Linked DNA regions of Homo sapiens: regions 2 and 3 are each linked to region 1. Evidence: fine-mapped expression QTL. A gene starts in region 1. Each other region holds a variant in brackets. All regions are shown on one strand. Distances are from middle to middle.

What was found.
Region 2: its variant is fine-mapped to the expression of TTLL12 in monocytes (TOPMed, PIP 0.94).
Region 3: its variant is fine-mapped to the expression of TTLL12 in thyroid (GTEx, PIP 0.98).

What each region holds. Positions count from the first base shown.
Region 1 is chr22:43,182,403-43,190,574 of GRCh38, forward strand. TTLL12 (tubulin tyrosine ligase like 12) reads right to left here and starts at 4,732. Exons shown (of 14, transcript NM_015140.4): 1 at 4,491-4,732; 2 at 578-747. The coding sequence starts at 4,667. RefSeq lists enhancers at 3,383-3,887, 3,828-3,907, 3,918-3,977 and silencers at 4,358-4,577, 4,618-4,777, 5,026-5,145.
Region 2 is chr22:43,161,559-43,169,730 of GRCh38, forward strand. TSPO (translocator protein) reads left to right here. Exons shown (of 4, transcript NM_000714.6): 4 at 1,245-1,684. The coding sequence ends at 1,433. It overlaps TTLL12 (tubulin tyrosine ligase like 12), which reads right to left. Exons shown (of 14, transcript NM_015140.4): 12 at 7,942-8,010; 13 at 7,216-7,354; 14 at 5,064-6,601. The coding sequence ends at 6,450. Among named protein-coding and RNA genes, the nearest start is that of TSPO, 14 kb to the left of the region's middle. RefSeq lists enhancers at 1,488-1,991, 1,992-2,494, 6,650-7,506, 7,507-8,172. The variant G/A (reference allele first, on the strand shown) is at 4,870.
Region 3 is chr22:43,218,658-43,226,829 of GRCh38, forward strand. SCUBE1 (signal peptide, CUB domain and EGF like domain containing 1) reads right to left here. Exons shown (of 22, transcript NM_173050.5): 11 at 4,440-4,559; 12 at 3,981-4,085; 13 at 2,516-2,632; 14 at 1,793-1,930. Among named protein-coding and RNA genes, the nearest start is that of SCUBE1-AS2, 10 kb to the left of the region's middle. RefSeq lists enhancers at 1,590-2,091, 7,209-7,775, 7,776-8,172 and a silencer at 6,423-6,588. The variant C/A (reference allele first, on the strand shown) is at 4,032.

The DNA of each region.
Region 1 (8,172 bases):
CACAGGGGCCCAGCAAGTTTCTCTGAGGGTCCACAAAACCTTTGGCAGATGGGCCTGCAGGCCTGACCTAGGGATAGCCACTCTTGGTCCCTGGGGGCAGGAAGCCTGGGGTACAGTCTCAGCTCTGCCCTAACTACACCGTGGTCCTTGGCAAGGCCAGGCCTGCTCTGGGTCTCAGGTCCTCAGGTGTTCCAGGGCCCACCCCAGATTCCAATTTAGCAGGACCAGAGAGGGGCTGTGACTGGGGAGGAGTAAGGCTGACCTGCACCCTTAACCTGGAGGGTGACCTCGAGCAAAACTGGAACTTCTAATCCCCTGTAGCAGGACCACTGTGACAATGAGACCGCTGGGAGAGGCTCTCAGGCCGCGGTCCATCCGGTCACCCCAGGAACGCTGTGTTGCCACGGACAGTACTCTGAAGCCCTGATGGACACACCGCTGGCCACACGTGCTTGCCACAAAGCTGTCCTAAGGAAGATGTCCAGCGGCGGTGCAGGGCCCAGGAGAATCTGCATTACTGCATCTCCCACCTTTCACCAAGTGAAGGTTGTGGTGGTGTCTCTGGCCAGGCTCCTACCTGTTGGGGTGGGCTGCCTGGAGCCCGCTCTCCCTGGTCACGATGACCTTGTAGCACAGCTCGTTCCCCGGGTTGGGCTGCTGCTTCCGCACCTCCCGGGCTGCCTCGTCCTCCTCCTCTTCTACCTCCTCCACTTGCATGATCCCAAACACTTCCCCAGCGTCGAAAACCTGGGGGCCAGAGTTCCCGTCAGCAGGGGTGTGGGCAGGAGACCCCACCCCAATGCCTTCACCACTCCAGAAAGCCACCCGAGGTGCCACACCCAGGCCTCAAGGACAAACTTGTCTCCTTCAGAGGTGTGGGACCTGTTTAATGCAACCACACAGTCTTACGGGCGGGGAGACTGAAGCTCCTGGAGATTTCAGGCTCGGAACAGGGACCTAATGTACCCCACCGTCACCTGAGCTGTCATCCAGAGCCTCGTCCCACAGGATGCTGTGCATGGAGATGGGACCTTGAGGACTTGCTGGAGGTATCTGTAGTCCACCCCACTCACATTACACAGAAAGAGAGGCCCCAAAGGCAGAGAGGGTGGCTCCAATTACACTGGAGGTCAATGGAAGAGTCAGGATCTTGGTGGCTGGGGGCACACCCCAATGCCCCCCTCACCAGAAGAACCCCTCAACACTAGGACAGCTGAGTCAACTCACAGAGAAGCCTCCTCCAGCCCAGCCCCACCCAATCCAGGCCAACAGGAAGCGAGGCCCCAGGTCAAGGTGGGATGGGGAGATAAGGGCCTTGGTCCTGCCTTGTGCGGCTAGTCAAGCAGGCAAGTGACCTCTTCTGGTGTGTGTGGAGCAGAGGGGTCCCTGGCACAGCCACACTCACGCCCTGTCTGCCACAAGCCGGCAAGGGGGGCTTCTGGGCAGATTCTGGAGCCAGGCTGTGTGGGTTCAAATCTTGGTTTCACCACTTCCTAGACAAGTGACCTTGAACAAGTTACTTAACTATCCCATGCGTGTTTCCTCATCCACACAATGGGAATAACAGAACCTCCCTCTGAGGGCTACTGGGAGGATTAGGTGATTCATACCCAGAACTCAGAGTGGAGCCTGGCCACAGCAAATGCTCTATAAACACGTGGCGCCATTGTTACACTTCTGAGACTGTTTCTTCACTTGTGAGAGGGGGTGTCATCCACCTTTCAGGACACTGATGGAATGAAATCAAACAGCGTGCATAAAGTCCTGGCGCACAGTGGAGGCTCAACAAAGGCCAGTTCCTCCCTAAAACGTATTTCCCACTACTCGATTAAAAACGGCAGTTGGAAACTAGCTAAGTACTCAGGTGCAGGCAGCTTTTGTGCACTGGGCAGGACTTGCCCTTTGGTGGCGTGAGGATGAATCACTCAAGGTCTCGCTCAGGAAGCTCAGGCTGAGTAAGGTCTAGGCCACCTAAGAGTATCAGGTAAATTGCTCTGGGGCCTGGAGGGCCTGGGAAGACTTTATGGATGAGGAACCATAACCAGAGGCCAGCTTTGAAGAAGGGGAAGATTTAAACATGAGGCTACGGGGTGAGGATGGAAAGGAACTCCACGCAGAGGGAAGAGTAAGAGCGAAGGCCTGGAGGCAGATAGCCCAGGGTGGAGCAAACCAGGGGTCACATGAGAGACAAGGCACCTGAGACAAGAGCCATCCAGTTCTCCTTTAGCCCTCAAGGTGGGTCTGGGGAGGCTACTGCCTTCTCCAGTTTAGGGCTGGGGGGAGGCTCAGAGGGCTGGAATCCAGACCTCGGGCTTCCGCCCCAGTACTCCAAATCCCTAGGGGACAGCGTGAGGCTGAGGGTCAGAGAGCCTGTCTCAAGCCTGGCCTGGATTCAACCCAGCTGTGAAATGGGGTGCTGGGTTTCTCCTTCACCACAACCCCTTCATGGCAGGACTGGAAGAGCTCCCCAGGAGATAAGGGGAGTGGTTTTGCAACTGGGAAGCTTGTGCAGACAGAAGAGTAGACATTTTAAAAACATCTCTTCGGCCGGCCGTGGCGGCTCACGTCTGTAATCCCAACACTTCGGGAGGCCAAAGCGGGCGGATCACGAGGTCAGGAATTCGAGATCAGCCTGACCAACATGGTGAAGCCCCATCTCTACTAAAAATACAAAAATTAGCTGGGTGTGGTGGCGCACGTCTGTAATCCCAGCTACTCGGGAGGCTGAGGCAGGAGAATCATTTGAACCCGGGAGGCAGAGCTTGCAGTGAGCCGAGATCATGCCACTGCACTCCAGCCTGTGTGACAGAGCAAGACTCCGTCTCAATTAAAAAAAGAAAAAAATTATATATATATATATATATATATATATATATATATATATATATATATATATATGTATGTATCTTCAAGTTTCCCCATCCTTTCCAGGGCAGCCGGCCTAAGGTGAGGCAGGAGGGCTGATGGCCAGGGGTGTAAGGGCCCACAGCGCTGGCAGGTGCTGCTGCTGCTGGCGGCCTCCTCCACACCTGGGCCAGTAGCAGCAGGAGGCTTCACTCAGGAAGAGCTGCAAGTTTGTGAATGGTAAAGCAGTGATTCAGCTCTGTCCTTAACGGCTGGGGAAGGGTCACGGAAAAACACTGGCTGCCCCTTAGTAGGGCAACAGCAGGCAAGGCGGCCTGGGCAGGGGACGTGGCACGGTGGCGACCACCCTCTGTGTGCCAGGCATATTTCTCATGCCACCTCCCATCCTTCCAATACTGTGGGAGCCAGATGGTGTCTCACCATCCCCTTCCCAGATGGAGAACAGGTCTCAGACGGGCGAGTGACCGCCCGAGGGAGGGCGTGCTGCCGTGGAGGCTGGCTGGGCAGGAGCTGGTCATTCCCACTGTGCTCCTTCCACGCAGCCCATGGGAACCTTTTTGTCCTCATGAACAAACCAAGGTCCCTTCCACCCAGCACAGGCCTGGGACCAGAGTGGTCCTCGGAAAGCATATGGCAGAAGTGAGGGGCAGAGGAAACTCTCTGTTACACTGTAGCATAAGGAGGTGCCACTCACTGCACGTTTCCAGCAGGAAGGTTCCTAGTCCAATCAGGATTACACAGAGAAAAACTGGCTCAGAGACCGTAGAGTCTGGCCAGCAGCCAGGCTCAGGGACTCCTAGTTCCCGGCCCGGGTCCCTGTTCTTGGCTCTGGGGTTTCCACTTCATCACCTGCGCCACTAGGCTCATCTCCGTCCGGGAGACAGCACCTGGAGGAGATGTCGGGTCCCAGCTAAAGAAAACACCCCCCCCCCCGCCAGCCCGGGAAGGTGCTGTGGCCTCAGCCTCTGGGCACGCAATAAAAATCCAGGGCTCATCCCCAGCCAGGACAGTGGGGAACGCTTTGGAGTGGAGGAGGCAGGTGAGCCGGATGGGCCGTCCTCACAAAAAGGGAGAGAACCTAGAGGCTTCTCAATCTTTTCCATTTTTCTTTAGATTTCTCCTCCACCTCTCACAGCCTGTTTTCTTTAACCTGCAAGATGAGGGGACCCCGAGGCTCAAATCAAATGAAAAAACACCGAATTCTGTGAACCCAACAGTTACAGCTACACAAATTCACGGGGTTCCCGTTGTCCCTGTGAGGCAGCGGCTGAAAGAATCCCTCTGAAGGGACTCTCGGAGCCGCAGTGTTCTCATCTGTGAAGTGGGGGTGATGAGTTTCACTCCTCGCAGGGCTGTGTCAGGCTCGGGTGTGTGGAGGACCTAAAGTTCCCAACGCAGCCCTCAGCCGGTCTCGGGCCCGGGCAGATCAGGGCCGCAGGTACCCCGGTCTCCTGCTGTCACTCTTCGGCCCCCAACTCCACGCCGCTCCAGAGCTGCCCAGGACGCGCTCTGGGTGGCTCACCGCGGCTCCCGCCGCCCGGGAGCGCTCTTCCCTGTCCCGCGCCGCGGGCTCCCGCCGCGCTCCCACCCCGGCCGCCGCACGTGCCCGCCGCCCTTCCCCGCACCTCGTGCTCCAGCTTGTGCAGGAGGCGGCCCCAGTAACGTTCGGGGACCCCCGAAGCGCGCAGCGCCGGGCCGTGCAGCGCCGCGAACTCGGCCAAGGCCTGCGCGCCCTCCTCCGGCGTCTGGCCCGGGCTGCTACGCTCCGCAGGCCGGCGCTCGGGACCCCGCTCGGCCTCCATGGCGCCAGCACCCGCGCCGACTCCAGCGCCGCCACCGCCGCCGCCGCCCGCCGTCCGTCGGCCCTGCCCTCCCGCCTCCGCCCCCTGCCCCGCCCCGCCCTCCTCCCAGCGCCCCCCCCCCCGCCCCGCCCTCCTCCCAGCCCCCCCCCGCCCCGCCCTCCTCCCAGCCCCCCCCCGCCCCGCCCTCCTCCCAGCCCCCCCCGCCTCCGCCCCCCGCCCCGCCCGCCTCCCAGCACCCCCGCCCCGTCCTCCTCCCAGCCCCCCGCCCACCGCCCCGTCCTCCCCCCAGCCCCCCGCCCCTGCCGCGCCCCCTGCCCCCGCCCCCTGCCCCCCTCCCCACCGCCCCGTCCTCCTCCCGGCCCCCCCGACCCCTCCCCTGCCCCGCCCTCTTCTCGCCCCCTCACCCCGTCCCGCCCCGCCCCCAGTCCGCCTCCAGCCCGGTTTGCCGCGGCCCCCGGGCAGGCCCTGCGCATCGGCGGGGTGCGTGCGAGAGCGCGCGAGCTTGCCAGGAGGGGGCGCGCGTCTGCGACCGCGCCTGTGGTTTGGCTGCCGCCGTGTGCGCACGCGCACCTGATGGTGGCTGAGCTTTTCTCGCTCAGCGCGCGGCGACCCCGGGGAATGCCGGGAGGGCGGGGTGCCTACGTATAGGGCGCTGTCAGGACCGGAAAAGGCCCCACCGACGGCCCGGAAGGTGTCCTGGGGCCCGAACCCGGTGAGGCGGCGCTTCTGTGCCTGCACCGGGCACACAGAGCTCGCAGGCCCCCTGCCTTGGGAGCTCTCGATTCTTGTGAGCGTTTCACCAGATTTGGATGCTGCAAAATCGTGGCCCTTCTCAATTACTTATATTTGGATTCGGAATGTCAGTTGATCCAATTAAGACCAAGTGTACCCGTCAGAGGAATTTACTCCTACATGTCGGGATGTTTCGAAGTGCAGTTGAGCTGGGCGTGGTGGCCGCGTCTGTAGTCCCAGTTACTCGGGAGGCTGAGGCGGGAGGATAGCTTGAGCCCAAGAATTCAAGTCCAGCCTCGGCAACATAGCCAGACTCCCTCTTTAAAAGAAAACAGTTCAGTTATAGAATTTCAAAAGACATTCTCTTTTGAACTCTCATTGAGTTTTATTGCTCCATAGGGATACATTTCAATGTCTTCCTTTTTGCAATTTTGTAAGAATTGTAATTTGCTAAAAAACAAAGGCTGAAAATTTTTTGGAGCTTCAGATGCTATTTTGATAACATTTTTGAACTGAGTTTGAATAAAATGCACCAATTCACGGACTTGTTCAATTCCATTGTAGGAAGCAGGTGGGTCTGCAAAGGCAAAAATTTCCAAACTCAAGTTGGTGAGGGCTGCAGAGAAAAACATTTTATTTATTTATTTATTTTGGGATGGAGTTTTGCTCTTGTTGCCCAGGCTGGAGTGCAATGGTGCAGTCTCGGTTCACTGCAACCTCTGCCTCCCGGGTTCAAGTGATTCTCCTGCCTCAGCCTCCCAAGTAGCTGGGGCTACAGGTGTGTGCCACCACGCCTGGCTAATTTTTTGTATTCAGTAGAGACAGGGTTTCACCATGGCCAGAGGAAAACCCTGATTCCTCGGTTTTTGTTGTGGAAGCCAAGGCTGAGATTGTACCATTGCACTCCAACCTGGTCAACATAGCGAGACTCCATCTCAAAATAAATAATATAGTAAAACAGCATCACAATGCTAGGATGGGGCATGCTGGCTCACACCTGTAATTCCAGCACTTTGGGAGGCCAAGACAGGAGGATCACTTGAAATAAGGAGTTTGAGACCAGGCTGGGCAACAAAGCAAGACCTCGACCCTACAAAAAGAAATTTTTAATTAGCCAGGTATAGTGGTACACACCTAGTGCACCTCCCGCTTCCACAACCCTTCCATCGGTCCCGCTGGGGAAGACAGACTGAGTCTCAGTTGTGTCAGGTACTGGTCAGATTATGTGAACATTCCTGACCCAGCCCCTTTGACCAGGAGAATGTGAGGCTCTGACAGGGCAGTCCTCTTTCACATGCTCCTCCCCAAATGTAAACCCAGTTGTATCAGATCCCTACTTGGAACCCTTTGTGGTTCAACTCTTCACCTGAGCTCCAAGGCTCTGTGTGAGCTGGCACTGCCAACTTTTCCAGCCTCTTTTCATTACACTCTTCCCCTCACACTGTGAGTCCCTGTATCTCTGGTTGTCTTCAGCTCCTGGAAAGCATTGTGCTCTGTTTTCTGCCAGAAAGCCTTTCTCCCCATGCTCACTTTGTAAATCCTGACTCATTCTTCTCAGCTGAAATGTTGTCTTCTAAAGAGGCACTGAAGAATGTGTATTTAATCAACATAAAATTACTGCTCTGCTCCCATTACTGCCACCAACCCCCTCCCCCTCCAGACAATTGAAAAAAAGGAGAGAGAGAAACAGGGAAAAAAAAAAGAGTTTAAAAGTCCCTTCCATAGCCGGGCACAGTGGCTCATGCCTGTAATCCTAGCACTTTGGGAGGCCAAGGCGGGTGGATCACCTGAGATCAGGAGTTCGAAACCAGGTTGACCAACATGGTGAAACCCCATCTCTACTAAAAATACAAAATTTAGCCGAGCATGGTGGTGGGCACCTACAATCCCAGCTACTCAGGAGGCTGAGGCAGGAGAATTGCTTGAACCCAGGGGTGGGGGTATGGAGGTTGCAGTGAGCCAAGATCGCATCAACTCACTCCAGCCTGGGGGAAACTCCGTCTAAAAATAAAAAAGGCCCTTCCATCCTGAAAATCCAAGCCCAGGTTGACCTTTGGTCCCTGATAGCTTTTTGTTCTGAGAGCTTTGCCAAGGGTACTCATACAAAATGGGTTTTTCATACAACATGGAGCCTAAACCCAATACAATGACTTTGTGAAAGTTGATCATAAGAATTGGGTCACCAGGCGTGGTTGCTCACCCCTGTAATCTCAGCACTTTGGGAGGCCGAGGTGGGTAGATCACTAGGTCAGGAGTTCAAGACCAGCCTGGCCAAGATGGTGAAACCCCCGTCTCTGCTAAAACTACAAAAATTAGCCTTGGTGCGGTGCCTGTAACCCCAGCTACTTGGAAGGCTGAGGCAGGAGAATTGCTTGATCCCTGGTGGCAGAGGTTTCAGTGAGCCGAGATCGTACCACTGCACTCCAGCCTGGGCCACAGAGTGAGACTCCAACTCACAAAAAAAAAAAAAAAAAAAAAAAATTGGGTCATTCTTGTCATAATTAAAACAGAGTTGAGAAGCCAAGAGGGAAAAAGCATTTGGGGTGCAAGGCATTGTTCCCAAAATGTAATTCTCTGTAAGCCCGACTGCTGAAACTGCTTGTGGTAACCTAAAACCATTTATTGATAACTTCTGAGATAACTGACTGCAACTCTAGGACTAATAAGGCTCACCAAGCTGAGCTTACTAACTCCCCAAACCCTTACAAGTACCAGTGAACTTTCTCAAAGAGCAATATGTAACATTTCTTCTTCTTTTTTTTCTTTTTGAGGA
Region 2 (8,172 bases), 21 kb before region 1:
CCCACTGCAACCTCCACCTCCTGGGTTCAAGTGATTCCCTTGCCTCAGCCTCCCGAGTAGCTGGGACTACAGGTGTGCACCACCACTCCTGGCTAATTTTTGTATTTGTATTTGTATTTTTTTAGTAGAGATGGGGTTTCACTATGTTGGCCAGGCTGGTCTTGAACTCCTGACCTCAGGTGATCTACCCGCCTTGGCCTCTCAAAGTGCTGGGATTACAGGTGTAAGCCACCGCGCCCGGCTGACTGCTTCTTTTTTAAAGTTTTAAACTTTTTTAAGAGATGAAGACTCGCTGTGTTGCCCAGGGCAGACTCGACTTCCTGGGCTCAAACGATTGATTCTCCCGCCTTTACCTCTTGAGTAGCTGGGACTCCAGGTCACGTCACTGTGCCCGGCAGCCTTTTTTTTTTGAGACAGAGTCTTACTCTGTTGCCCAGGCTGGAGTGCAGTGGCATGATCTCGGCTCACTGCAGACTCCACCTCCCAGGTTCAAGTGATTCTCCTGTCTCAGCCTCCCGAGTAGCTGGGATTACAGGCATGCAGCACCATGTCCAGCTAATTTTCTGTATTTTTTTTTTTTTGAGACGGAGTCTCGCTCTGTTGCCCAGGCTGGAGTGCAGTGGCGTGATCTCAGCTCACTGCAACCTCCGTCTCCCAGGTTCAAGCAATTCTCCTGCCTCAGCCTCCTGAGTAGCTGGGACTACAGGCACGTGCTACCACGCCTGGCTAATTTTTTTATTTTTAGTAGAGACGGGGTTTTACCATATTGGTCAGGTTGGTCTTGAACTCCTGACCTCAGGTGATCCACCCGTCTCAGCCTCCCAAAGTGCTGGGATTACAGGCGTGAGCCACTGCACCTGACAAATAGCAAGTTTTTGTTTGGGCCTTGTAGTAATGCTGGGAGGTCAGCATCGCTCTCAGTGGAGGCTCTAAGCTCAGAGAGGGGAAGGGACGTGCAAGACCTCCTAAGCCACCACCGCACCCTTGAACAAACCGAGTTCACTTCAGGCATGTCATGTGCACCCCACACAAGGCATGGGTCAGGTGGCATGACTGTTCCCATTTTACAGATGAGGAAACTGAGGCTGCGATGGGGGAGGGGCTTGGCCAGGTCACTCAAGGGTGGAGTGGGGGTGAGTGAGGCTCCTGACTCCCAAATCCAGTGGGAGTTGGGCAGTGGGACAGGCACTTGGGTGAACGCGGTGCCTCAGGCCTCCCCATCCTCCGTCCCCCAATCTCTGCAGGCCTTGGTGGATCTCCTGCTGGTCAGTGGGGCGGCGGCAGCCACTACCGTGGCCTGGTACCAGGTGAGCCCGCTGGCCGCCCGCCTGCTCTACCCCTACCTGGCCTGGCTGGCCTTCACGACCACACTCAACTACTGCGTATGGCGGGACAACCATGGCTGGCGTGGGGGACGGCGGCTGCCAGAGTGAGTGCCCGGCCCACCAGGGACTGCAGCTGCACCAGCAGGTGCCATCACGCTTGTGATGTGGTGGCCGTCACGCTTTCATGACCACTGGGCCTGCTAGTCTGTCAGGGCCTTGGCCCAGGGGTCAGCAGAGCTTCAGAGGTGGCCCCACCTGAGCCCCCACCCGGGAGCAGTGTCCTGTGCTTTCTGCATGCTTAGAGCATGTTCTTGGAACATGGAATTTTATAAGCTGAATAAAGTTTTTGACTTCCTTTACCATGGCCTTTTTGCTTGGGTGGGACCCCTGGCCACAGGGAAGAGGGGGAGCTGGGGCTGCACTGGAGCTCGTCTCTGCAGGATCTGCCTGGGCTGCCTTCTCCAGACAGGGCTGGATCCAGCTGGGGCTGCCCCACGCTTCCTGGGACGCTCCCGAAGCCCTGCAGGAGATGAACAGAGCAGCCCTGGGTGCCACCCTGGGGCCCACACTGGCGCAGACCCAGCTGGGGCCGTGGGCTTCAGCAGAGGGAGGGGGTCCTGTCCGCTTCCCATGGCTTCCGGGATGCTCAGCCCGGGCCCTTTAATGGCCGGGCCCACAACCACTGTTCGACGCCTGGTCCTGCCCAGTGCGTGGCCCTCAGCTGCTTTTACCCAGGACAGAGTTGGGGGTGCTGACTGCCCTGTCCCCCGGGGGCCCAGGCTTATGGCAGCCTCACTGCACCAGGGATAGCCCCGCAAACACCCAGTTGGCTCGAGGGGGAGTCAGAGGCAGGAAAGGTTAGGTCCCGACTCCAGCAGACAGGGCCTCCTTGCTGGCCCAGAGCGGCCAGGATTGGAGGTGTCACAGCCACTCACTCCCTCACCCCGGCTTCGAACTGGGTGACCCATGGCCTCTCCAGGCAGCTGTTTGGAGTAAATGAGCCGAGTCCCATACGCAGCACTCCTCCGTCTTGCTCTCGGTCACCACACCCATGCAGCACTCAGCAACACAGCCCGCGGCTCCCTCCCCTCGGCCAGGCCTGACCTGCCGGGCTTTTTGTTTTTTGTTTTTGGCAGCTAAGTTCATTCAAATTGGCAAAATGTTCATAGACAGCTCGTCATCACTCAACAGCCCGCGGCTGCTGCTTCCTCTTTTCTCCCCCGGCTCCTGTGTCCTCTCCCGACCTGTACGCTCAGACACAACCTGACGTTCACAAAAGCTTGGACACAGTGGCTCACACCTGTAATCCCAGCACTTTGGGAGGCTGAGGCGGGAGGATTGCTTGAGGCCAGGTGTTTGAGACCAGCCTGGGCAACATAGGGAGACTCTTGTCTATACCATCCACTCTGGTGCACGCACAACACACACACACACACACACACACACACACACACACACGAAAGAACGAACAGCTCAGGGAAATGGGTAGACAGTCGACTGCATTCTTCTGACAGAAGGGATGGCTCCCGCCCAGGGGCTGCGCTACTCCACCCTGACCCTCAGCCTCCCGCTCCCTTGACTCTGGCAGAGTTTGATGCCCAACAGATCACGCTCTGCAGGATCCAAAAACTCTGCGGCCACGGGCACTCAGCTGAGCCCTCAGCCCTCATGGCTTTCCCGATGCTCACCGGTGCAGAGGAGCCAGCTGGGGAGCCTCTGTGTATCCTTTTTATTAACTTATTTCTGAAGTTCTCCAAGACGCCCAGAGTTGAATTCCTCCAGAGCTCTGTGCAGACAGTCCAAGCAGCGGATGGCAGAGAGGTCCTTGCTAGCAAGAAACTTACAGGCCAGGCTGTCTCCTGCTCCAGCATGCCGGTGAGCATGCACCGTCCCCGCAGGGCACAGGGGTATCCTTTGAAGTGTCAAGGGACACCTGAGTCCGTGCCAGACACTTAGGGATTGGAGAAAGTGCAACCCAGACTTCTGCCATCTCCGCAACTCGTGGGGTTGTTCATCTGTAACAAATGTCCCACATAGCTCCTGCTGGCCACAAAACACGCACTGCCACAAAACGCCTTGGAAAAATGGGCGAGAGGAGAACGCATTTAGCATTTCGTCTGCCGGCTTCCTTTTAACAGCCTGGCGACGTTTCCCCAGGAAATGCTCGTAACAGACAGCATTCTCTCCTTTTCTAAGCTGCTGTCATCCACTGGGAACTTAAGGTTTTGATGCTTTCTGAGTGGGTTTATTTATTATTTTTTTTTGAGACAGTCTTGCTCTATCGCCCAGGCTGGAGTGCAGTGACGCCATCTTGGCTCACTGCAACCTCTGCCTCCCAGGTTCAAGTGATTCTCCTGCCTCAGCTTCCAGAGTAGCTGGGATTACAGGTGTGTACCACCATGCCTGGCTAATTTTTGTATTTTTAGTAGGATGGGATTTCAACACATTGGGCAGCCTGGTCTCCAACTCCTGACCTCAAGTGATCCGCTCGCCTCAGCCTCCCACAGTGCTGGGATTACAGGCGTGAGCCACTGTGCCTGGTCAATTCCGGCTTTGGATGGCTTCTTAACACAGTGATGAGGGTGCAAATGAGTACCAGGAAGAAGTATTTAGTGGGATAAACATCTCCCGGCAACTGCCTCAGCACCTGGAGCCGGCTGGTCTTCCGGCTCATGAAGTCCCTGGCTCTTGGCCTTCCTTGGGGGTGTCCATTTGCAGTGAGCAGAGGTGCAAGGACATGTGGGGACAGAGAATAGCCATCTACAATCATGGAAAGCCTGGACCATGTGGTCTTGATTCTGGGGGCTGTCCCAGCTGCTCCCTGGGCAGGACTATCTCCTGGGCACCAGGTTTTAAGTGAGCTGGGAACTAGTGAGAGCACCAGCTGTTAAGCTTCTGGACAGAGTCCGTGTGAGCATCAGTCCTGAGACCTGCCCTGGAAGGGAGGCTAAGGAGAGAAGCAGCACAGTCCACAGGCAGCCTGCCTCAGGGCCGCTCTGCCTTCCGCTTTTTTTTTTTTTTTTTTTTTGAGACGGAGTCTCACTCTGTCGTCAGGCTGGAGTGCAGTGGTGTGATCTTGGCTCACTGCAACCCCCGCCTCCTGGGTTCAAGCGTTTCTCCTGTCTCAGCCTCCTGAGTAGCTGGGACTACAGGCGCGCACCACCATACCCGGCTAATGTTTGTTTTTTTTTGTATTTTTAGTAGAGACAGGGTTTTATCATGCTGTCTGACTGTCTCGATCTCTTGACTTTGTGTGACCTGTTCTCTGTCCTGCCTCGGCCTCCCAAAATGCTGGGATTATAGGCGTGAGCCACCATGCCTGGCCTGCCTTCTGAGTCTTAACCTCCTTGGTCACCATGTGGCGCTGCTTCCACCCACTGACGGTGTCCATGCACCTGCTCAGCAGTGGCCCGAGGAGCCCTGCAGACGCCCCAGCAGCCAGGGTTTCTCACCGTCCCCACCCCAGGACAAGGAGGCAAGTGTGGGGAGGCTGCTATCTCCAGGGCCACTAGAGCTGTGGGGCCACTCGAGGACCGAGGCTCCC[G/A]GCCGGCTTGGAAACAGATCCAGCACATGGAAATCAGACTGTGGGGTGGAGGCCTGCGATATAAAGGCCATCTTATTTCTTCTCCCACTTTTTGTGGGTGACTTCTTGGTATCCGGGGCTTTTCAGTGACAGCCGGGGCGACAGGCCAGGCTGAGCCTGTGGCTCCAGGGTCCAAAGAGAAAGGAGGGCAGAAATAAGAGAAGATGGCCTTTATTGCAGCACGAACTGAGGGGGACTGCATGTCCACAGCTCTCCAGGAGCTGCCAAAGGCGACGGGCCCGCCCTGCCCCTGCAACAGGCCCTCCAGGGGCTAGAGCATGGCTCCCCTCAGGAAGGGTAACGCGTGCTTGTAAACAAGGGCCCAGACAACACAGAGAGGAGAGGCAGCATCATCAGGTGCAGCTTTGCTACAAGAAAGATAGTTCTTAATTTCAAAGAGGAGACACCGCTACACCTAGCCCTGCCCTCCCATGCACTGGAAGGCTCTGGAAGTAGCTCTCGCCTGCCTGGGCAGTTAGGTCCACCCACTGCCCGTGAGCTGGGCCCAGGCACACTGCAGCCACACAAAAACGCTGGCAGCTGACTCCTAATTTCAGAAACACAATTAGAAAAGAACTGGAATTTTACATTTTTCTCCCATACATTAAAAAATAAGAAAAAGCCAACATTTTGACTGTAGACCCTGGTAGGTGGCATCTGACTTTAACCTGAAGTTCTCATTGGAATCCTTTTCTGTCTGGCGCTCCACCGCCCACAATCAGCCCCAGCCCCAGGCGCCCCTTGCCGAAGGATCCTGGCCCATCTCACACAAGGGCGGGACCCCGTGGAGTGCCCGGCGAGCAGGGCAACCACTGGGAAGACAGATACTGATTTCCCTGTTGGGGTCTGTGACCCTCAGCAAACGAAAAGGAAACGGTAACAAGACGGTGGCCTCCTGCCAGGACCTCAGCAGGAGGTTTGCTGGTGAAGGTTCTGGGTGAGCTGGAATGGGTGATAAGGCGGGCTTGCTGGGTGGTGGCCTCAGGCTGTTCCTGGGCCCCTGTCGCATAGAGCCCTGTGGGTGCAGTGTGGGGCCCCACAGCCGTCCCGGGGTCGTCCTGATGCATAAGAGCAGAGACCCCGGAAGAGAAACCCGCCTGCCCCGTGTGATACAGGGCTCCCAAACGCTTCCCGGTGGAACCCTGCTCCCGAGGACACCTTGTCTCGCTCCACGGAACCCTTCCCCCAGCACCCCCTGGAAACACAGCAGCCAGGAACAAATTCTCCATGCCAGGAACAAAGCCCTTGGCTAAACTGGAGACTCATCAGTGCACAGATGGTGGTGAGGGGTGAGGGCAGGGCGTGGGGTGGTGCTCAGCCCTGGGGACACCATCACTGTCCTGCTCTGACCCACAGGTGAGAGGAGGATGCTGTGCTCCCGGAGTGTGGCGCCGGGAGGATGGCTCGGCAGGACAGAGGCCTGGGGCTGAGGCTATGCCCAGGGCCGGTGTGGGGAGGGACATGGGGGCCTTTGCAGAAGCAGCTCAGAGAACTGAGGTTGGAATCCTGCCCCAAGCACAGGTTTTGGGGACAGCGAGTGCCTAGACAAGGCAGGTAACGTGGCAGCCACCGGGCTGGTCCAGAAACAAGGTGCTGAAGACGTCGTTGAAGAAGGTGGGGTGGTACCTGCAGGCTCGCTCACAGTCGGGGTTGAAGTTCACCTCCAGGATCTGCGGCTGCATCACCCGCCTTCCTGATGGCAAAGAGCGCAGCAGAGTGTGAAGGCTCGTTGGCCTCCACTCTGCAGGGACAGTGGCCTGGGGATCCAGCAAAGGCTGGGAGGCCATGAACCTGGGCCCTGATTCCCAGGGGATGAGCAGGACAAGGCCGGGCCTAGAACTTGGGTCTCTTGACTTTGCTGGGGAGGCCTGGCCTGACATCTGCTTCTCTAGGAGAGGCCAGGGCTGCCTCCAGCCCTAGGGATGACAGCCTGGCCCTTTAAGCTTGGATGTTCAGTTTAGTAAAAAAAAAAAAAAGTAGATATGCAGCAGCAGTGTACTGTGTGGGGGTCTGGCACAGGGAAGGCCAGCCAGGGTGGTGTGGGTTGGGGTCAGGGTGCCTTTCACACGGGTCTCCTGTCCTGTGAGCTCTCCCCCGACTCAGAGGCCCAACCCGCAGCCTTTCCCCTCCAGACTCTGCACCGCAGGCACTTCCTGTGGGCCAAGCCAGGGCTTTCCCCAACCCAGATTCCTGGCTGATTCAAGCCAGAGGACAGCCTGGGGCAGCTGCCTGCCTTCTCCAGGCTGTGGCTGGCTGGCGGAGGGGGCGCCTGCTGGTTTGGATCAGGAGATGGGGAGCCCCTCTTACCATCTGGGCCGTTGTCCCACTTCAGCATGAGGTCGACGGCATACATGGCCCGGGATGAGGGGTAGTCGCAGAGGCCCAGGGGTGGTGGCTTGGCACAGGCCACCTGGAACAGCTCCGTGAAGGCCCGGAAGATCTCAGCCTGGGGACCGGGGAGCCTGAGTTACGAGGCCTGCTCAGAACAGCCTCTCAAGAGGGGGTCTGCTGCCCCTGCCCAAGTCCCGGGCCCCACGTGGCCCAAGTCACCCCCTCCCACATCTTCACGTCTCTAGACCTCACCATGGCCACCTCCGCCCAGCACCTGCCCTCTTACTCCTGACGCCCACCTTCTGCAAATCTGCCCATCTCCTGCCGCAGACCCCGTTGCTCCCCACTGCCCCAAGGAGCTCAACACAGCACCCAGAATGCCGCTGCTGGACATGGAGGCCCAGCCAACGTCTCCATATGACTGGGAATCTAGGGTCAGGCAGTGCCGCCACCCTCTGGCTGTCCCAGGGGTGCCCCACATGCCCCTCCAGCTCCCTCCCTCTCAGGAGCACCCACAAATGCCCAGGGTGGAAGGGAGGGGAGCCCACGCTGTCTTGCCAGCCTCTGGGGAGAATGACCAACTGCAGGGGACAAAGGTCCCTCCCAGCCCATGCCAGCAGAGAGGGAAGGGAGCAGCTCCTGCAGGCCCCCAGCCCGGGACCCGCCCCACCGGCCTGCGATGGTGTGCAGGACAGGAATTACCTGGACGTCCGTCCAGGGAAATTCTGGGTATTGCTTCTCAAACTCGGGGATGAACTCTTCACAGTGCACCTGCAACAGACACAGGGCCCATCACGCTCTGTACAGGCCTCCGCTGGGCCGGGAGCAGGCAGCCTGCTACTGCCTGGACCAGGAGCTTCTGACACTGGGTGGGGGTTCCAGGAGCAGGCAGCCAACCCCGAACCCTCAGGGTCCAAACAGGAGGCAGGAGAT
Region 3 (8,172 bases), 36 kb after region 1:
GCCCACGGCCACGCAGCAGATCTGAGTGCAATCCAGGCAGCTGCCACTGCACCACATCACCCCCCAGGGTACGACTCACGGGGCAAGAACGCCTTTCTGTCACTCAAAGACTCTTGGGGACTGCCACTGTCCCCAGGATAGTGTCCAGCTCTCTGGCCTTGAATCCAAGGCCCTTCAAGGTCCAGCCCCGTATGGCCTTGCCAGCCTCATCCCCTCCACTCTGACACTCCCTGTGGATTCCAATGTCTAGCCACCTGGCCCTACTTACTGCTTCCTGGACACCTCCTCCTCTCTCTGACCTCTGTGCCTTTGCCTATTCTATTCCCTCTGCCTGAATGCCATTCCTTGCCACCTTTTCCACCCAGTGAGCTTTGATTCTAAGCTCTCATTCAAATGGCACCTCTTCTGGGAAAGCTTCCTGATATGGTTTCAATATTTGTCTCTTCCAAACCTCATGTTGAAATCTGATCCCTAATGCTGGGGGTGGGGCCTGGTGGGAGGTGTCTGGGTCATGGGGTAGGTCCCTCATGAATGGCCTGGTGTGGTAGTCAGTTCTTGCTGGCTCTACTAGTCGCCACGAGATGTGACTGGTGAAGACATAGGCACCCCCTCCCCTCTCTCTTGCTCCCTTACTCTTGCTATGTGATGCCAGCTGCTCTTCACCTTCCTCCGTGAGCAGAAGCAGCCTAAGGCCTCGCCAGGCAGATGCTGCTGCCGTGTTCTCGGACAGCCTGCAGAGCCGAGAGCCAATAAGCTCTTTTCCTGATAAATTATGCAGCCTCAGGTGTTCCTTTTAGCAACGCAAATAGACTAAAACATTTCCTTTTTTTTTTTTTGAGATAGAGTCTCACTCGTCGCCAGGCTGGAGCACAGTGGCGCGATCTCAGCTCACTGCAATCTCTGCCTCCCAGGTTCAAGCGATTCTCCTGCCTCAGCCTCCTGAGTAGCTGGGATTACAGGTGCCTGCCACCACACCTGGCTAATTTTTGTATTTTTAGTAGAGACAGGGTTTCACCATGTTGGCCAGGCTGGTCTTGAACTCCTGAACTCAAGTGATCCACCCACTTTGGCCCTCCCAGACTGCTGGGATTACAGGCGTGAGCCAGTGTGCCCAGCCAGACTAAGACATTTCCTAAGCCCTCCCGTGGGGGGCAGACCTCAGTTCTATGCATTGTTTGTTCTTGTGCCCCCACCACCGAGAGTCCCACCTGGCAATGGGTGGTTTGCACGTGCGTCTGCCTCTCTGGCTGAGAGTGTTACCTGGGTGGGGACTTTTCTTTCCACAGCGCCCAAGCCCACAGCCAGGCCCATACCACACTTATCTGCTGACAGATCCCATCTCTTCAACATCAACGACTCACAGGTTGACACTCACATATAGCCAAGAGCAAAGTGCTGCTGTGACACCCGAGCCAGCATTAGAACCTCCTTCAGGAACCAGGAAAGACAATCCTTGGCTCAACCATTCTAGGGGGGCTGCACCTATTTGTCCTCCCGGGTCCCAGCAGGAGTGTGGAGGGGCAGATAAGGGTCATGTGACTTTTGAGGTCACCTCGGCTCTTCTGTCTCATTGCCCTGGGCTGCCTCTTCTATCCTGGGCTGCAAGCGTTGACCCCTGCCAGCTCCCTTTGCTTGTGGGCCTGCCTCTGTCTCCAGAAGCTGGGCTCCCATCCCAGCCACAGCTGTGCTCTGGTGGGAGCCTAGCTTCATGCCTGGCAGGCCCCCGGCAGCGCCACCAGCCTGTCGTCCTCCTTCAGGCCTGCAGAAGCCCCCAGGAGAACCCCTCACCTACCTGAGGCCTCTTCCATCTTTGTCTCGATCTCAAACTCTGCTGTGATGTGGGACACCTCCTTGGATGGGGACTTGCGGCCACGGCGCCTCTTCTTGGAGGAGTCACACTTGAGGGTCACGAAAGTCACATGGCAGTGGTCTGGACGAGGAAAGGACCACTGTGGCAAAGGCGGCATGGGGCAGGGAGCAAGGTCCTACCAAGCCCTGCATACAGAGTGCCATTGGCAAGGACTTCCTGGTCCGTGGTGCAGACGGAAAAACTCAGGCTAGAGAAGGTCAGGGCTGGCTCGGGGTCTCAGGAGGGGCTGGTGGCTGAGCCAGGTCTCACGCCCGGTCCATCACGCTGCTGCAGGTGGAGGCATCTCATACATATTCATGAATGAGGCTGTGCCCCCAGCTCTGGGCCTGCTGAGGGTTTGGCCAGTGCAGACTCGGCTCTGGGCAGAGCCTGCTGCGTGCTGAGAGCTCTGTTAGGTTTGAGAAGGAATCTTCACGGGGACAGAGCTGGTGCCTTCCTCCGGGGCCCCTCGTACCAAGCTTGCCCTCCGCTGTTTCCCCAGCCTGCAATGTCCTTGGAAACTCTCATTCAATAAACAGCTGCCAGGTGAGAGAGACCTCCACCCTTGGAAACCAGACTCGCTGGACCCTGGGGCCCCAGCTCCCAGGCATGAGGACTCTCCTACAGCCCCGTTGGTGTGGGTTAGGAGCAGGGCGTCCCACTCACCCAGCAGCGGCTGCCTGGCGGTCTCCTTTGCTCGTGCCTGGCTGTGGGGCCGGAGGTGGCACTTGGCATCTCGGATCTTGAAGCGGGCCTTCTGTTTGATGGGGGTGGTGGGGGCATCTGGGGAAAGCCAAAATTCCCCCAGGTGGTGGCCTCTCCTGCAGGCAAGGAGGTGGTGGGGGACGGGGGCTGCCAGGGGACAAATCCATCTGGAGCTGGGGGTGGGGCTTGATCTGAGTCCCTGTGCCCCGACAGCTCTCCTGGGGTGGGGGACCCTCTCCTGCCCCATTTCTCTCCCTGCAAGGCCTAAAACAGGTGAACACATGGATGGTGGGGTCAAGCTCAAGCCCAGGGGCCACCCGCCAGAGGTCTTCTGAGAAGGAGGACAGGGATCCTCCTACCTCCTCCCCATCAGCAAGCCATGATTGTGCTTTAGGAAAGAGCGTAGAACAGAAGAGAGATAGGACAGCAAGGAAGGGAAGGGGCTTTGAAATACTATAGATCCAGGACTGCCGGTTCCTTGCAAGAGCAAATCATAGCCCTTGGACTAAAGAATCCTACCACCACAGGTGCTTAGAATCAAATCACATATGCATTAAATATATAGAAATGGGCAGGGTGCGGTGGCTCACGCCTGTAATCCTAGCACTCTGGGAGGCCGAGGCAGGCGGATCACTTGAGGTCAGGAGTTCCAGACTAGCCTGACCAACATGGTGAAACCATGTCTCTACTAAAAATACAAAAATTAGCCAGGTGTGGTGATGGGCACCTGTAATCCCAGCTACTCAGGAGGCTGAGGCAGGAGAATTGCTTGAACCTGGGAGGCGGAGGTTGCAGTGAGCCGAGATCACGCCACTGCACTCCAGCCTGGGTGACAGAGCGAGACTCCGTTTTAAAAATAATAATAATAATAATAAAGAAACATACAGAAATGCACCTATCTATCAAATCCAGCATCCTGAATAAGAAAAGCTGCTGAAGACACAACCCTCAGCTCCTTAGCTGGCAGGAGCTAAGGCTGGCTGTGCCATGCCGACCAAGCCCAGCGGGTCACTCCCAAAGGGCTGGGACTGTGCTGCACCTCGGCGCTTCTTGGCATGCTCTGCACGGCCAGGCCAGCTCTGACTCGGGAGAACCTAATAGCCACAGCAGATGTGGCTTGCTCCACCCATACAGTCTGAGATCTGTGCACTCACAGCACGTTAGAGTCCCTGAACCACTCTGGCTGTGACCTCAGAGCCGGAAGGGCCCTCCCACGGTCCCCTGACCCTGGGCTAGAACTCGGCCTGCAGCCTGCTGGCTTCTAGGTCCTGGGCCTGGCTCATCGCCAGCACCCCAGGCCACACGGAGCAGGGCCGAGAGCAGGAAGGTCTTCCCTGGGCGGTGCCCTTTCCTCCCCCGCCAGCATGTTGCTGGATGCAGTCAAGTCACCCAGTGGCATGCAGCATGGACAGGCCGGGGGGGTTACCTGAGCAGCTGGGCCCGAGGCCAGAGCTGGTGCCGTTGCGTTTCTGCAGCG[C/A]CTTGCCCTGCGGCCCTGGAACTCCGCAGCTCAGGACGTAGCTATTTTCCGAGTCTGCAGAGAAGCCGGTGGGTGAGGTGGGCCTGGTGCTCCTCCCTCCCACGGCCCTCAGATTCTTGGGGCCTCAGAGGGATTGTGGAGTGAGACGAAGATCAGGACAGATTCTTCTGCCAGTTTCTGCTACACAACCACAGGGAAGTGGCCAGGAGGAAGGAGCCCACTGGGTTTACTGAGAAGGACAGCGAGGCCCACAGAAAACCAGACAGCTGCCTTAGGGTCACTCAGTTATCAGAGACCCTCATTCCTAGGTCAGACTCTTTCCTGGAGGACAGCTGGGAGCAATGGTGGGACCCCAGGGAGGAAGACCCCCCTGCCACAGCATCCCATCTCAGGGACGGCCCGGGTTACCTGGCACGAAGAGTGTGTGAGCCGGGCAGGAAAGGAAGCAGCTCTCCACACCGCCTGCCTTGCTGCAGGACAGCTGGGCCCGGGGGGAGGTCTTGGCGCGAGAAAGACACTTGCCTGTCTCTATGAAGGGAGATACGAGAGAGGGCTGAGAGAGGCCAGGGCGGAGGCTTCCTGGAGCCAGGAGGGTCCTGGGTATGGCCTAATGGGGACTCCCCCAACTCCCTTCTTCCATGGCTGGGCTGGCTTGGTGGGAAGGCGCCTGGAGATCGCAGGTCCCTTGGGCGTGTGGGGATGCTGGGCCCAGACAGCTGGCTTAGTCCCTCCTCCCCTTCAGGCTCTAATCCTGGCTGTGAGAAGGTTCATGTCCCCATCCCCAGATCAGAAACTCCCTGAGGGCAGGGCTGAGCTCTCCAGGGCAGGCGTCCATTCCCACTGGGGAAAGGAACGGCGCTAAATGAACACTGGCTTCCTGGGAGGGGCCGTGGGGGGGATCGCTCGGAAGCACCTCTTTGGGGCAGCCTCTGCTACAGCCATCAGGTGTCTGGAGAAACAGCCCTCCAGAATTTCTCACTTGCTTACTTATCTTTAGAGGATGAAAAAGTCCCCCGGACTCCTAGGAAAAGACGGACGGTTCTACAGCCATGGTAAATACCAGAACTGATTTTACAGATGGCTAATTGGTCGGTGACAACCGGCTTATGTGGCACGCCTCTGAAAGCCACCTCATGAGTGACAGCCTCGCACTCTGGTCAGTCATCAATGTGGAGTTACTCCAGTGTAACCAGGCTTCCAGGTTCAGTCAAGTCACCTCCCTTCTGTAACCCACACAGGCCATGCTTCTAGACTCCCATCAACCTAATCCCAACCTGCCTGGAATAAGCTTTGCCCCAAATCCCCAGGGAAGATCAGCAGTTTGCTTTGCTCCCTGAGCCTGCCTGACCAACACAGCTCCCCCTTACTTAAGCGACAGCTCAGCTTTCTGGTTTCAGATACTGAGCGGTGGCTGATCTCATCCTTTGGTAATTCTGGAGGTTCCTCCAAGATTGTTTTAGAAACCCTTGCTTCCCAGTGTCCTTTGGGTGCCGTGGGCCACAGGTGTCCTTGGTCAACCCCCGGGGCCCACATTTTGTCTGTCCTGCTGATTGCTTTCTGCGAGGGCACCGTGTGACAACACTCTGAGCTCTCACTTGCTTTGCTGCTCTCTCGTGCTGACTGCTTTGTTAGCAAGTGGGCCTCTGGCTGGGGAGCAAGACCTTGTGTTCGGAGACACACATTTACCTGTGTGTTCTGCTGCTGGGCACTTTGCTTTTGCTTGACTATTAGATAAAGGTTTATCCCATGAGTTTTGTTGTGCTCTGACTTGTCTTGTGTTTGATGGATAGATAACAGGGTGCTCCTTGGGGACCAGATGGCGACACAGGCCCTGCATGCTTCCAACTCAATCCAAGCTGGCCCCCAGGATCAATGGTCAGAGGTCTATGATACTAGGGGCCAATTCCTGTAGGCAACTAGGCAGGGCTTTCCTTGGGTCCCTTCTAAAATCTTCCTCAGGGCGCTCCTGTTCTGCCAACACGTGAAAGGAGGCCCCTTTGTTTTCTCCATATTCTGGGGTCACAGCTGTCAGGTCACTGACTGCACGGCCCTTTCCAGCCTGTGTCTGGTTGGGGGAACCGGAACGTCATGCTAAGCACACACTTTTGACTGATGAAAGTGATGATCATGGGCTGGTTATGCCAAGGCTGCAACTTCCCTGGCTGAACTCCTGCAGCCTTATGAATTTAGACTATTATCCTAACTTGTGCTTGTCCTGGTAAATGGCAAACTGCCCCCTACTCACCACAAAACCTAAACAGCGACAACTACCACCACCAGCTTAGAATAACGTTGGTCATTGTGGGAACTTCTGACACATCAAAACTAATACATTAATATATTTAAGAGGAGCTCTAAAATGTTAGGAGACAAAATTTCATCATTTAATAGCTTCTGCCACTGGTATACCTTGGCCTCAGTTTCCTCCCACTCAAACCTTCCGAAATCCACTTGCCACTCTCTCTGCCCAGCTCCATCTTCACCAGCCACTTATCGCATCACCCCCCCACTCCTGCCCCTCCATCTCCTACACAAGCAACTCCTCCCTTAGGGTTTATCCCAGGAAAGCCAGAAATCAGATCTCTAATGCTGGATGTAAAGCCACGTCTAGAGCTATGCTGAGTGCTGAAGGAAATTTTCCTAAACTCCAGGAGACAGACAAACATTTGCTTAAGAATTCAGGATATCGCTGGATAGTTATTGTCCCGGATGATCAGATCTGTATCACAATGAGTTCACCTAAGTGTTAGGATCTTGGATGGAAGAAAAAGTTCAAAAGCAACAGATGGTAAAGAGCAGTAGAAGCGGCCGGGCTCGGTGGCTCACGCCTGCAATCCCGGCACTTTGGGAGGCTGAGGTGGGTGGATCACAAGGTCAGGAGGTCGAGACCAGCCTGACCAACATGGTGAAACCTCGTCTCTATTAAAAATACAAAAATTAGGTGATCTGGTGATCTGCCCACCTCAGCCTCTCAAAGTGCTGGGATTACAGGCGTGAGTCACCGTGCCCGGCCAAATGTTTCTTTCTGAGAAACTAAATGTGTCAGCCTCTTTCTTCTGCCACTCAGTTTCTTGCCCTTTGGAGGCAGGTTTGCGTAAACCTGCTCACCACAGAGCAATGACCCCCTAACACCCTCAATGAACAACGCTTTCCTGCAAAGAATCTGAAGGTACCATATCCTTCCTATGCTTGTAAGACGGAGATCCCCTCATGCTGCCTCCGCCACCCGTACAACCCCAAACAAGCTCTTTCCCAAAACTCAGCAGAAGAGCAGCAGTTGACTTTGTTCAGTGAGACTTTGCCTGAAAAGCACAGCAAGTCCTTCCACAAGTACGTGATAAACTCAGCCTTTGGATTTCAGATATTAAATGATGGTTTGTATTCGTTAATGTGTTCACTGACAAATATTTACTCTGTGTCTGTGATTGTCAGGGTCTGTTCCAGGTGCTGGGGCTCTAGCAGTAAATGGGACAGGCCAAGAAGACCTGTTTAACTGTGTAAAGCTTACATTCTAGTGAGGAGAGAGAGATGGACAGACAGACAGACATACACCAACACGAACCTGTAAAGTGCACATTACTTCTGGTGGCTGGGAGTGTGATGGGAGGGAAAGCAAGCTGGAAGCACAGGGGGCCCAGATGGGTGCGGAAGTGGCCAAGGCTGCGGCTCTGGGTGGGTGATGGGGCAGGCCTCACTCACAGACCCTCACAGCAAGGGAGGAGTGAGGAGTGCTGGTGTGGGGGGGCCCTCCAGGCCAAGAGAAGCGCACAGCCTCGGGCTGAGGGCTGGTGGAGGCCCTGCGAAGTCAGTGAGGCTGGCGTGAAGCGAGGGAGACAGCAGAGGGCAATCCTGTCAGCTGGCGGCAGCCTTCGGGCCATTCCAAGCGCTGTGGCTTTGATTCAGAGTCAAAGGAGGAGTTACCGGGGTTGGAAGGGGCGGAGGGTGGGGGTGGGGGCGGGGTTCTGAGCCCAGAGGGATGTTCTAACTTACATTTAAAAGGCTCACTTAGGCTGCCCTGGGGATGTCAGAGTGTGGCGGGGCAAGGACCCGGCGTGGAGGTTCCAGGAGGGCAGGCCCACAGCCCCAGCACCCAGACAGGGTCCCATGTACAGGGAACCAGGGAACGCAGGGGCCCGTCCAG